Regions from separate parts of the Homo sapiens genome. Here region 2 is linked to region 1. The links come from fine-mapping of genetic effects on gene expression. Tissue or cell type: prefrontal cortex. Region 1 holds a variant in brackets; the other region holds the start of a gene. All regions are shown on one strand. Distances are from middle to middle.

Region 1 (5,154 bases):
TCCATACTTCCAAGGTTCCTGGTCTAGAGTAGCTGGGTTGTTTATTGTGATTAATATATGATTGGATTTTAAATTTTCACAGTTAGGTTGTGTGGGGCCCTTATATAAATGTATTTTACCCCTTAAGGCTTTGTTTTTGGAAGAATGACTTACTCAGCCTTGGTATTAACTGGTCTACCAGACTGATTTCAGCTAGTGTAGGGCTTTTCTGAGAGGGCCCAATAATGGTTTGTTTTAGGTCATAGATATTTGTTTGCCTGTGACAACTGTCTTTGGTGTCCTAAAGTCCTTCAAGGTAAAACTTGGCAGGCATTAAATTTTACAGCTTGCGGGGTGAAAGTCTGAGTTATGTTGACTATTAGTTTGATTGGATGTTCCCTACTTTCCACCCCTAGTACTGGGCTCCATTCAATACTCGGGTTTCCTTTTACCCTTTGTGTTAGGATTAATCCTAACCATAACCATCCCCAATGACAGGGCCCGCTTATAGCTCTCTTCTAGGTTTTCCTTAGAGTTAGCTTTAAGGGTTCCTTAGGCGATTTATACACTTCCCATTTGCCCTTTTCCCTTTTACCCTTCCTTACATTTTTTTTTTACTGGTCCCTTGACCCAAGTGTAATGAGTCCGCCCTCGTTCAGCTGTTTCCATGGCTTTTTCGGTGGTCAGGAGCACTTGACAGGGACCTTCCCAGCTTGGGTGGAGCTTGTCTTCCTTCCAAGTTTTAATCAGCACCAAGTAGCCAGGCTGGAAGTGGTGAACCGTGAACTCAGGGGTGGAGTTTGAGTCAGAAGTCCTTTTAACCTAAGAGATGACAGGGTAGAGGATATGGCCAGTATATGATTTTTTAAAAATTGGTCTTTGGTTTCCATAGTAGGAAGCTTTGTAGCCTTGTTTAAATATGAGAGTCCATACAATAACTCAGAGGGGGACAATCCTAAGTCTTTTCTTGGGGTTGTCCTAATCCCAAGGAGTATCATTGGGAGACATTTGGTCCAAAGCATTTTAGTTTTTAAGATTAGTTTGGTAACGTGCTTTTTGAGAGTTTGATTTATTTTCTCTACCTTTCCAGAGGAGGGGGGATGCCAAGGGGTGTGGTAATCCCATCTAATGTGCAAACCTTCCATAATTCTCCTTAGCACCCTTGAGTTAAAGTGGCTTCCATTATCAGAATTAATATTTTTTTTTACCAGGCCAAATCTGGGTATAATTTGTTTTAAGATTATTTTGACCACATTCCTGGCTGTGGCAGTTGGGAGGGGGAAGGCCTTCACCCAGCTGGAGAGGTGGTCTACTATTACCAGCAGATACTTTAGTCTCTCTATTTTGGGCATTTCTGTAAAATTTACTTGAGTGCTTTGAAATGGCCTTAACCTAGGAGGTCTTCTTCCAGTAGTCGTTTTTTTTTTTTTTTTTTTTTAACTACCTTTTTGTTTATTCTCTGGCAGGTCACACAACCCTCACACACTTGTTTAGCAAGTGTATAAATCTCTATACACCCATAATTCTTGTGTATTGCATTACACAAGACTTTCCCCAATGACTTCCCTTATGCAGTATGACATCGGTTCTCTAATTATGGATTTGCTTATTATTACTCTCCTGTCAGGGAGCACTCACCTTCCATCCCCAGTTTGAGTGGCCCCTATCTTACCCAGCTCTTTCTCCTCCTCTTTAGAAAACTGGGGTCTTAATACCACATTAGGGATATCTGGTATTAGGCTACACAGTCTAACTTCTTTCTTCAGGGAGGCTTGCTTAGCAGCTTTATCTGCAAGCCCATTCTTTATAGCTTCTATAGTGTTTCCTTTCTGATGGTCATTTACGTGAACTATGGCTACTGGAAGCAAGAGGCTTTTTAAAACTTGTTTGACCAGTTCCCCATGTACTAATTTTTTCCCAGCGCTATTTATTAGGCCCCACTTTGTCCAGATCTTTCCAAAGATGTGTACTACTCTATAGGCATATTTGGAATTAGTATATATAGTGCATTTTTGACCTTCTAGGAGGTTTAGGACCTGGTTAAGAGCATATAATTCACAGGTTTGGGTTGACCAGTTATTGGTTTACCTTTTTCACATAAGGATTGTTTGTTTCTATCAATGACAGCATAGCCATTATGTCTTTTGCTGTGTATTACTTGGGATGACCCATTCACAAACAGCCTTGTCCCATCATGTACTGGAGTTTCTCTAAGGTCTGGTTTAACTTTAGTTTGATAGTCTATGATATTTAAACAGTTACGGTTTGATGCCTCCTCATTCTCGTCTCCTTTCTATAAGAAACTGGCTGGATTCAAGCAAGTATCTATTGTTAAATCTATTGGATTTATCTATTGTTAAGACCAAATTATTATTATTATTATTATTAGTAGTAGTAGTAATATGAATTTATATTTTAAAATCTGGGAATTAGTTAACCATCTTCCAGCTTTTTGGTTTAATACATTCCAGACCTGATGTGGGGTGCTTACTACCAGGGCCCCGCTGAAGGTCAACTTTTGAATTTCCTCTACCAGCAGAGCTGTGGCCGCTACTGCTTACTTGCACTTTTGTCTCTGTCTCCTGTCCTTTATGGCCTCTCTCTCTTTCTCTTTCTTTCTTTTATACTTGTTCTTCCTTTTACATTATCTTTCTCCCCAGTCTCACCATCTGTGTCTTTGATCTGTCTTTTCCTGTCTCTCTCTCACTTATTTCCTTTTTCTATTGCTTTCTCTGTCATCCCCTGTTTCCTTTCTCCCTTACACTCAGTTTCTTCCTCTTTCTGTCTCTCTCTGGTCCTCTACCTTTGCTGTTTCCTCCCCTTTCTCTTTCCAATTTACCTTCTTATTTTTTCTCTTCCTCCCTTTCCCAGCAAACAGAATATTTACAATTGACATCATTTCAGCCCAAGTATAAAAATTGGTCCTAAAAATTGAACTACCTGCTCTGCTAAATCTAGGGGATTTTTTTATGGTG[G/A]CCTTATTTCCTTTTTAAAATTCCTAACCTCAGTACTTGTTAGAGGCACACCCACAAATCCAACTTCTTCCTGTCCCATAGGGAAGTCTCTAAGAGGGTACATGTTAGACACCTGCTGTTTAGAAGGAATAGGTAAATTCTCAAATTTTTTAAAACATTGTTCTAATTTTTTTCCTTAAATTTGGATAAGGATTTAAGAGAGCATTGGGTTTAGCTCCTTTATGACCCCCAGATTCCTCTTCCTCTTGCCTTCCTGTTGCCTCCTGATCTCCCTGTCCTCTACTTTGTGAGATGTATGGGGCAGGGGGAAAGCATGTTAGGGGATGCCAGGGATTTCACTGGGCAAAGGCCCTTTATTATGCTCTTTTTTTTTCTTTAAGGGGGATCATGGGGGTTAATTCACTAATCCAACAAAAAGCATAACCCACCTCCTCTTGTGAGGTTGGAGTTTTGGTATTTACATAGAGAATTAAGTTTGGCACACCCAGTCCTCATCTGAGCCAAACTTAGGCCAAAAGACTGAGGCTGATTAACGGGCTCTTTGGGCCAGATAAAACAGCAATATTTATTATCTTTTGCTTTTCCTTGTCCCTGGTTCGAGGGTTATCCCTCCAAACCTGCAGCATTTTCCCCAATGGATTATCTGGGGGAATTTTAGAGGGGGGTCTCTTTAGTTTCCTTTTTCCTTTGTTTCCTAAGCCTAGAATTCTTATTTCCCGTTTTTGGTTAGTCTCTGTGTCTGAGCTTTTTCCTGTGTACTCAGCCCCCACACTGGAAGTTTCTTCGACACCTCAAGAATTGCTTCGTTTGTCTCCAGCTGTTTCCTCATGGGACAATTGGGACTCTGCACTCGCTTTGTATCTAAGGTACATCTTAGTCACACACACTCAACCTCTGAAAATGCCTAACCACCAAGGCAGTACTTATAGTCCAATTTTCCTACCTTGGCTCATGCACAAGTTTGCCTAGTTGCCATGGTGCCTGCTTTTCTCCCTGTGTCACTTCCACTGTCTCCTGAATAACAGTCTCAGGTTTGTCTTCTGCTTTTGTGGGGAGCCAGGACACCCAGACAGAGCAGGCCACCTAAATCAGGTGGGATGTATCTCCCCTCTCAGCTGGAGTCCCACTCCATGCAGGCACAGAGTTCCCCATACGGGTTACCAGGTTGTGAGAAAGAAACTCACCCATCCAATCCCAAAGAATGGACTCAGAGACCCAGAGAACAGCTAAAGTGAAACTTTTAATGATGGTCTTGCAAGACAGCTTGTCTGATGGGCAGGCACACCTAGCACAGTTACAACAAGCAATTTATCCCCTAGTGCACAGGTCCCTCTCCCGGACTCTTCATAGGCTAAGTACTATGGGGTCACAATCTTCCCAGACATCACCTATCACTTGTTGGGTTGGGGCTTTAGGTGTTGTCTTGCAGCATTTTGTTGCAGCCTACAATGCATTGCAATCCTAGTCAGCTCAGGGGCTCTTTAAGTATTTGACTTATGACCTAAGTAGTTGGGCAGGCTGATAAGAACAGACAAAGTGAGCTATTTTGCAGGCTAGTAAACTTTCATCTTAGACTAAACTTCTTTGGTTTGGGTGAGGGCAACTAAACAGGGGGCAGGGGCTACAAGCAGATGTTGGCTATCCAAGCAGGGGCCTAGTATATCCTGTGTTTTCTGTAGTTTGCTGACCTAAGACAATTTAAGGCACTTTATCTTGGAAATGGACCACTGTATACATTATTTCCTTCGTATCTCCAGCTCCAGTCAGAGCTAAAGTGAGCTTGGGTGAGCCAGGAGGATCAGTGGGCTGGCCCAGGCCATGGGAACAGAATACAAGTTAACTGGCCACAAATTTCATCAGTGGACCCTAGACCAAGAACTTGGTCAGTTCAGTCCCCCTTACAGTAGGGGGCAGCAAAAATCCAAAATCCAGCAGAGGAATCCCAGGCTTTCCTTTGCGTGTGACCCCTAGGGCCTGGGGTTCCTGTCCTGAACCCAGATGCCATCAGTACAGGACAAGGGGAAAGGGGATAAAAAATGCTAAGCAGGAGGTAAAAGTTATGTTGATTGAGTTATTTCCTAAAATGAGATTTTCTTAAACCAGAAGAGACAGAAATATAGACATCTAATCAGAAATTTTATCTCCACCTCAGGTGGGTCAGTTGCTCAAGAAACAACATTATATCCATTCAGACTAAAGA
Region 2 (5,154 bases), 160 kb before region 1:
TTAAGAAGACTAAGTTGGAAGACATACCAGATAGCAAGGTGTGTTATAAAGGAAGAAAATATGGCATGATGCAAGGCTAAACAAATGGAATGATAAAAGATAATAGTATAAAGTCAGTCTTATATCACTCTGGACATTTGGTTAATGGCAAAGATGGTAGTGTAGGTCAGTAGAGAAAGAATAGTCTTGAATAAATGGTGCTGGGTTAATTGAATTTTCAAATGGAAAAAAAATAGTTTCCAGGTTGATTTTACATGTAAGAGATAAACGAAGATAACATTGGAGAATATCTTCAGGACCTCGGGGTGGGGAAATACTTAAATAAAATTCAAAAAGTACTAATTAATAAGAAAAAGACTGATAAATTGTACTGCATTAAAAGTAGGAATGTTTATTCTTTTAAAGATAGCATTAGAAGAGAGATGTACAAGCCACACAGTGGGAGGATATACAAAACACATTTAACCAATAAAGGAATCTGTCCTGAATATAAAAATAGCTTCTATAAATCAATAAAAAATACAGTTAACTCAATGGAAAAATGAATACCTTAGGAACGTTACAGAAAAGGATATCCAAATGGCCAATAAACATATCAAAACTTCTCAACCTTGTTATGCACTAGGGAAATGCAAATTGAAATAACGTGTGAGACCTCAATACACCCACCAAAGTGACTAAAAAGATAAGAAAGAAAAAAATCCTTGACAATACCAAATATTGGTGAGAATGTGGAGAATTGAGATTTTTTTTTTTTTTATGTACTGCTGGAGGCACATAAAGTGACAGAAGCACTTTGGAAAATTGTTTGACAGTATCTAAGTCCTAGCGATTTACTCTTAGGAATATTCCCAACTGAAATATGTACATATGTGTAACCAAAAGTAGTACACAAAAAAGTGCATAGCCCTATTATTTATAATACCCCCCAAAATGGAAGAGACCCAAGTATCTACCCATAGACAAATGGATGAATAAATTGTTATATTTTCAGATAACATAATAGTCAGTGTTGGGAGATGAAGGTAGACTGGACTAGGATGATAATGGCAGAGAGGGGGATAAATGGATAGATTTGGCAGGTTTGTAGGCAGAGTTGACTGGACGTGGTGATGAATCAGTGTGATGAGAAAACAGGAATCATGGATAACTTCTAGATTTTGGTATGAGCAAACAGTTATTTCTCGTTATTTCTATTATTTCCATCATCTTTCACATAAAAGAATGCAGTCTCTCCCTGCTCCTGCTCTTGCCTTCCTATATTCCTGTTTTCCACGTAGCAGCCCAGAGTGGTCTTTTAAAAACATAGATTATCTTACTCCTCCTGCTTAATACCCCTTTAAGTACATGCTAAAATCTAACATGTACTGTTTTAATTCTACTGTGCCCCTCTTTACATGAGCTACGCTGTCTAGCTCTCTGACATCACCATATACCACTGGTCCTCTTTTTAACTATGTATGCTCTAAGGCACACTAGCTTCTTTTTGCTCTTTGGGACAAGTTTACTCTTGCTTAGAATCTTGCCCTTTGCCTTGGCTAGTTTCTTTTGTGTTTAAGATCTCAACTCAAAGATAATTCCCTAGAGAGGTCTTCCCCTGGCCATCTAATTTAAAGCACTTTCCTCCTCCCTCCCATCACTTTACTACAAGCTTGTCCAATCTGTGGCCCAGGACAGCTTTGAATGTGGCCCAACACAAATTTGTAAACTTTCTTAAAACATTACGAGTTTTTTTTTAAGCTTATCAGCTATTATTAGTGTCAGTGTGTTTTATGTGTGGCCCAAGACAATTCTTTTTCCATTATGACCCAGGGAAGCCAAAAGACGGGACACCCCTGCTCTACTACATCACTCTTTTATTTTCTTCATTGTTCTTATCACTATTTAAAATTATCTTATTTGTTTATTGTTGTTTACTAAATGTTTCCCCCTATTAAAGGTAAGCTGCTAGGAGTTTATATAGTTCACTGCTGCATAGATAGAGCCAAGACCAAGTAGAAGGTAGTTAATACATATTTGTTAAGTAAATGAATAAATGGACAATCTAACAATACAGAGTATTGAGTAGCTCCATGGAAAGCAAATTTATGCCCTCATTTTCCTTCTATATAGAAATAAACCTTTTAGTGACAGTGCCACTAAAAAGAAAGAGAAAAACCCTAAACTTCCAGAACCTTTTGCCTTACAGTACACATACATTCAGATTTCCACCTTGGTTAATAGTAAGTAGACAAAATTAAATGTATTCCTTCTTACCTTGTTCACCAAAAGAGCAAATAGAATGTAGCCTGAAGGAGCCTGCTGGGTACTGAAGGCTGAGATAATGGCCCTTTTATAGCAGGCCCCATGCAGGGAGGAGCCACCCTCTGTGGGATGGTCTGATTCATTCCTAACCAAACCTAGATCCACCCATATCTCCACCTCTATTTCTCCAGCAACCTGTGTTTACTTCCCAGCTTCCTCACGTACTCATCTGTACTTGTTTCAGCAAGTTCCAAATTTGGGTTTACATATTGGAAATTTTATGGAAGGGTCCCTTTGGCTAATACAGGTTGTTTGTGTGCAGGGCCCATACCTACTTTTCTGTAACCCCACTTTGGCTTGACAGGTGCTTGGTAAATATCTATTGATAAATACACTTCCTGATCCTTGTCTCTAGAAGAGTAGGACATATTAATACGTTTATAAGAACTTGAAATTCAATTTATGATAGGAAAACATCACAAGCATCTACATATATGTTCTTTTTTAATCTATGTATTCCATCTTTGGGTACTGAAGAACTTGCCATGAGATGAATGCCGTCTTCTAGAAATTATGGTCAGTAGAGGATAGGCAAATTTAATTTTAATTTTTCAAAGCAGAGCAAGAATGTGAACAATTGAACTAGAAGTGGTGATCACTAGGAGCATGAGTTTAATTAGGCAAGACTCATTAGTGTAATTTTACTTTGTTTTCAAGGTTATTACATCGTGGCATCAGAGACATGTTCCACATACTCTTCCTTCTTAAACCATGAATTTTCTTTTATTGCCATAAATATACAGGGGACTCCTATCCCTGGTCTGTCTTATGATATACACACTGTTATGTTGAGCAGATTGCATCTCCATATGGATGTCCCATGGTTATCTCAATCCATAGTGTTGAAAACTGAACTTACATTGTGCCTCCTACCAAAATGTACTATCCTCCAGAAGCCCATATATTGGTAATGATGCCCCCACACACTGGGTGTCTCAAGCTAGACAAAGTCATTTTCATTTCTCCTTTTCCTTAACCCCTCATGCTCATGTCACATCGTATCAATTATACTCAGGCTTAGATTTTGTTATGTAGGCCTATTCTCTACCTCCAGTGCTATAATTTTAGTTCTGGACCTGACCATCTTTCAATTGGGTATTGGTAAAGAAAAAAAAGTGTCGTAACTAGCCTCTCTCTCTACTATTAAGCTGGCTTACCATCTTATGTCATTCGCTGTGCTGGTTTCTTCTTGCCTGCAGAATTTCAGACTTTTTTACCTGACGTACAAGCCCCTTTACAATAGGCATGAATCTGTATCTTTTCAATTGTCCCTCTTATTACCTGTATCTCATGGAAAAGTCACTCTAGAATGAGCAATATTTCTTGGACGAGCCCATATTGGTCCACTACTGTTCAAAATCTTTGCGTGCTATCCTCCACTACCTTGACTTGAGAGACCCTCATCCTTAACTTCTCTTTATCTTTTAAGATTCTTCAAAATTACCACCTCCTGCATAAAGCCTTACCTGACATCTCCAGATTTATCAGTGTTCCCTCACATACTCTGTATTTACCTCTCAATAGCACTGGTGATATTTTATATTAATTACTTATTTATATGTGTGCCCCCTGCCCCCTGGTGCCTTGAATCCTGTGTTTCTTCTCACCCTAGCATTGACTGGGTCTGAGTCATCCTTTGTGTCCTTGGGCCCTACAGCAATGCCTGGGACATGATCAAATAAGGGATGCAAGGGTGTGCCAATCTTGTTCAGAGTCAAAGAGATAAAAATATGCCCGAGTTTTTAAAACTGTGTTTAATGTCCTCGTTCTTAACCTTATTAGACCATTGATTCTTTCTTTTGTGGAGTATTGGTTAACATCTGTAGAACACAGATATTCATTTTCTCCTTTTTTCTTCTTGGGTCTAATTTTTTTATGCCAGTAGTTATTGCATTTTTGTCTCTACCATGATGTAATAATGATAGTAATCTATATTGTATACCCATTATGTGCTAGGAATGTGCTAAGATTTTGCGTGTATTAATTTTAATCATCAGGACAACCCTTTGAGGTCATTATTATTCCTCTATTTTAGAGATGAGGGAACTGATACTGATAAGGCACCCAAGGTCACCAAGCAAGTAAGTTACAGAACTAGGATTTAATCTGAGGTTATTCAGACTCCAACTCCCACATTATTTCCACCATGGCATATTGTTCTGGGTGTGAACTTTTATCCTTTTTTTGTTAACCTTATTTATATTTTTAATGTTTTAAACAGTGATTTCTCTCAAAGTACCTATGTCTGGGTGAACTTAACTGTGGAAATCATTGCAGGATCAGCAGAAAGACTAGACCATGGACTATGAGTGAGTGAAGAAGGTAGCATTGAGAGAGTGTCAAGAATGAGGCAATCTTGGATATGACCTTCTTTGGGGCCAAAAGACCCCAAATCTTGCAGAATTATGTCAATATGGAGGGTATTGTTTAGTGGTCTGCTCTAGGACTTTTTTCCTGACCATGTTGTGCTCATTGTATTTTATCAATAACTTAGGTGAAAATTTGGATAGATGGCAAATATTTTTAGGATAGACTGAGGATTCAAGAAGATTTTATCATGTTGCACCAATGGCTCAAATCTGATAAATGAATATTATTGAAAAAGTAAAATTCTGACTCCAGTTCCAAATTACACTTTACAAGGATAGGGTAGAAGACATGAGTAAAAAAAGCAATATTGTGGCAGTGGCAGAGTGATGCCATAGCCAAAAAGATAATGTGATATTAGGCTGCATTAAAATAAACACATTAGCTGGAACAAAATAGGTGGTGAGGTACTTGGCTCAGCATTTATCAAACTATTTCTGTAGCTCTTTGTTCAGTTCTGATGACCATTTTTCAGTAAGGATA

Evidence for each region. PIP is the estimated chance that this variant, and not a neighbour inherited with it, causes the effect. A credible set is the group of variants that fine-mapping cannot tell apart.
Region 2: it holds the start of FLG, and the variant in region 1 is the best candidate, but not a certain one, in a credible set for the expression of FLG in prefrontal cortex (GTEx, PIP 0.60).

What each region holds. Positions count from the first base shown.
Region 1 is chr1:152,481,742-152,486,895 of GRCh38, forward strand. No RefSeq gene overlaps it. Among named protein-coding and RNA genes, the nearest start is that of LCE5A, 26 kb to the right of the region's middle. The variant G/A (reference allele first, on the strand shown) is at 2,955.
Region 2 is chr1:152,322,933-152,328,086 of GRCh38, forward strand. It overlaps FLG (filaggrin), which reads right to left and starts at 2,307. Exons shown (of 3, transcript NM_002016.2): 1 at 2,257-2,307. All of the region lies in intron 3 of CCDST (cervical cancer associated DHX9 suppressive transcript), which reads left to right.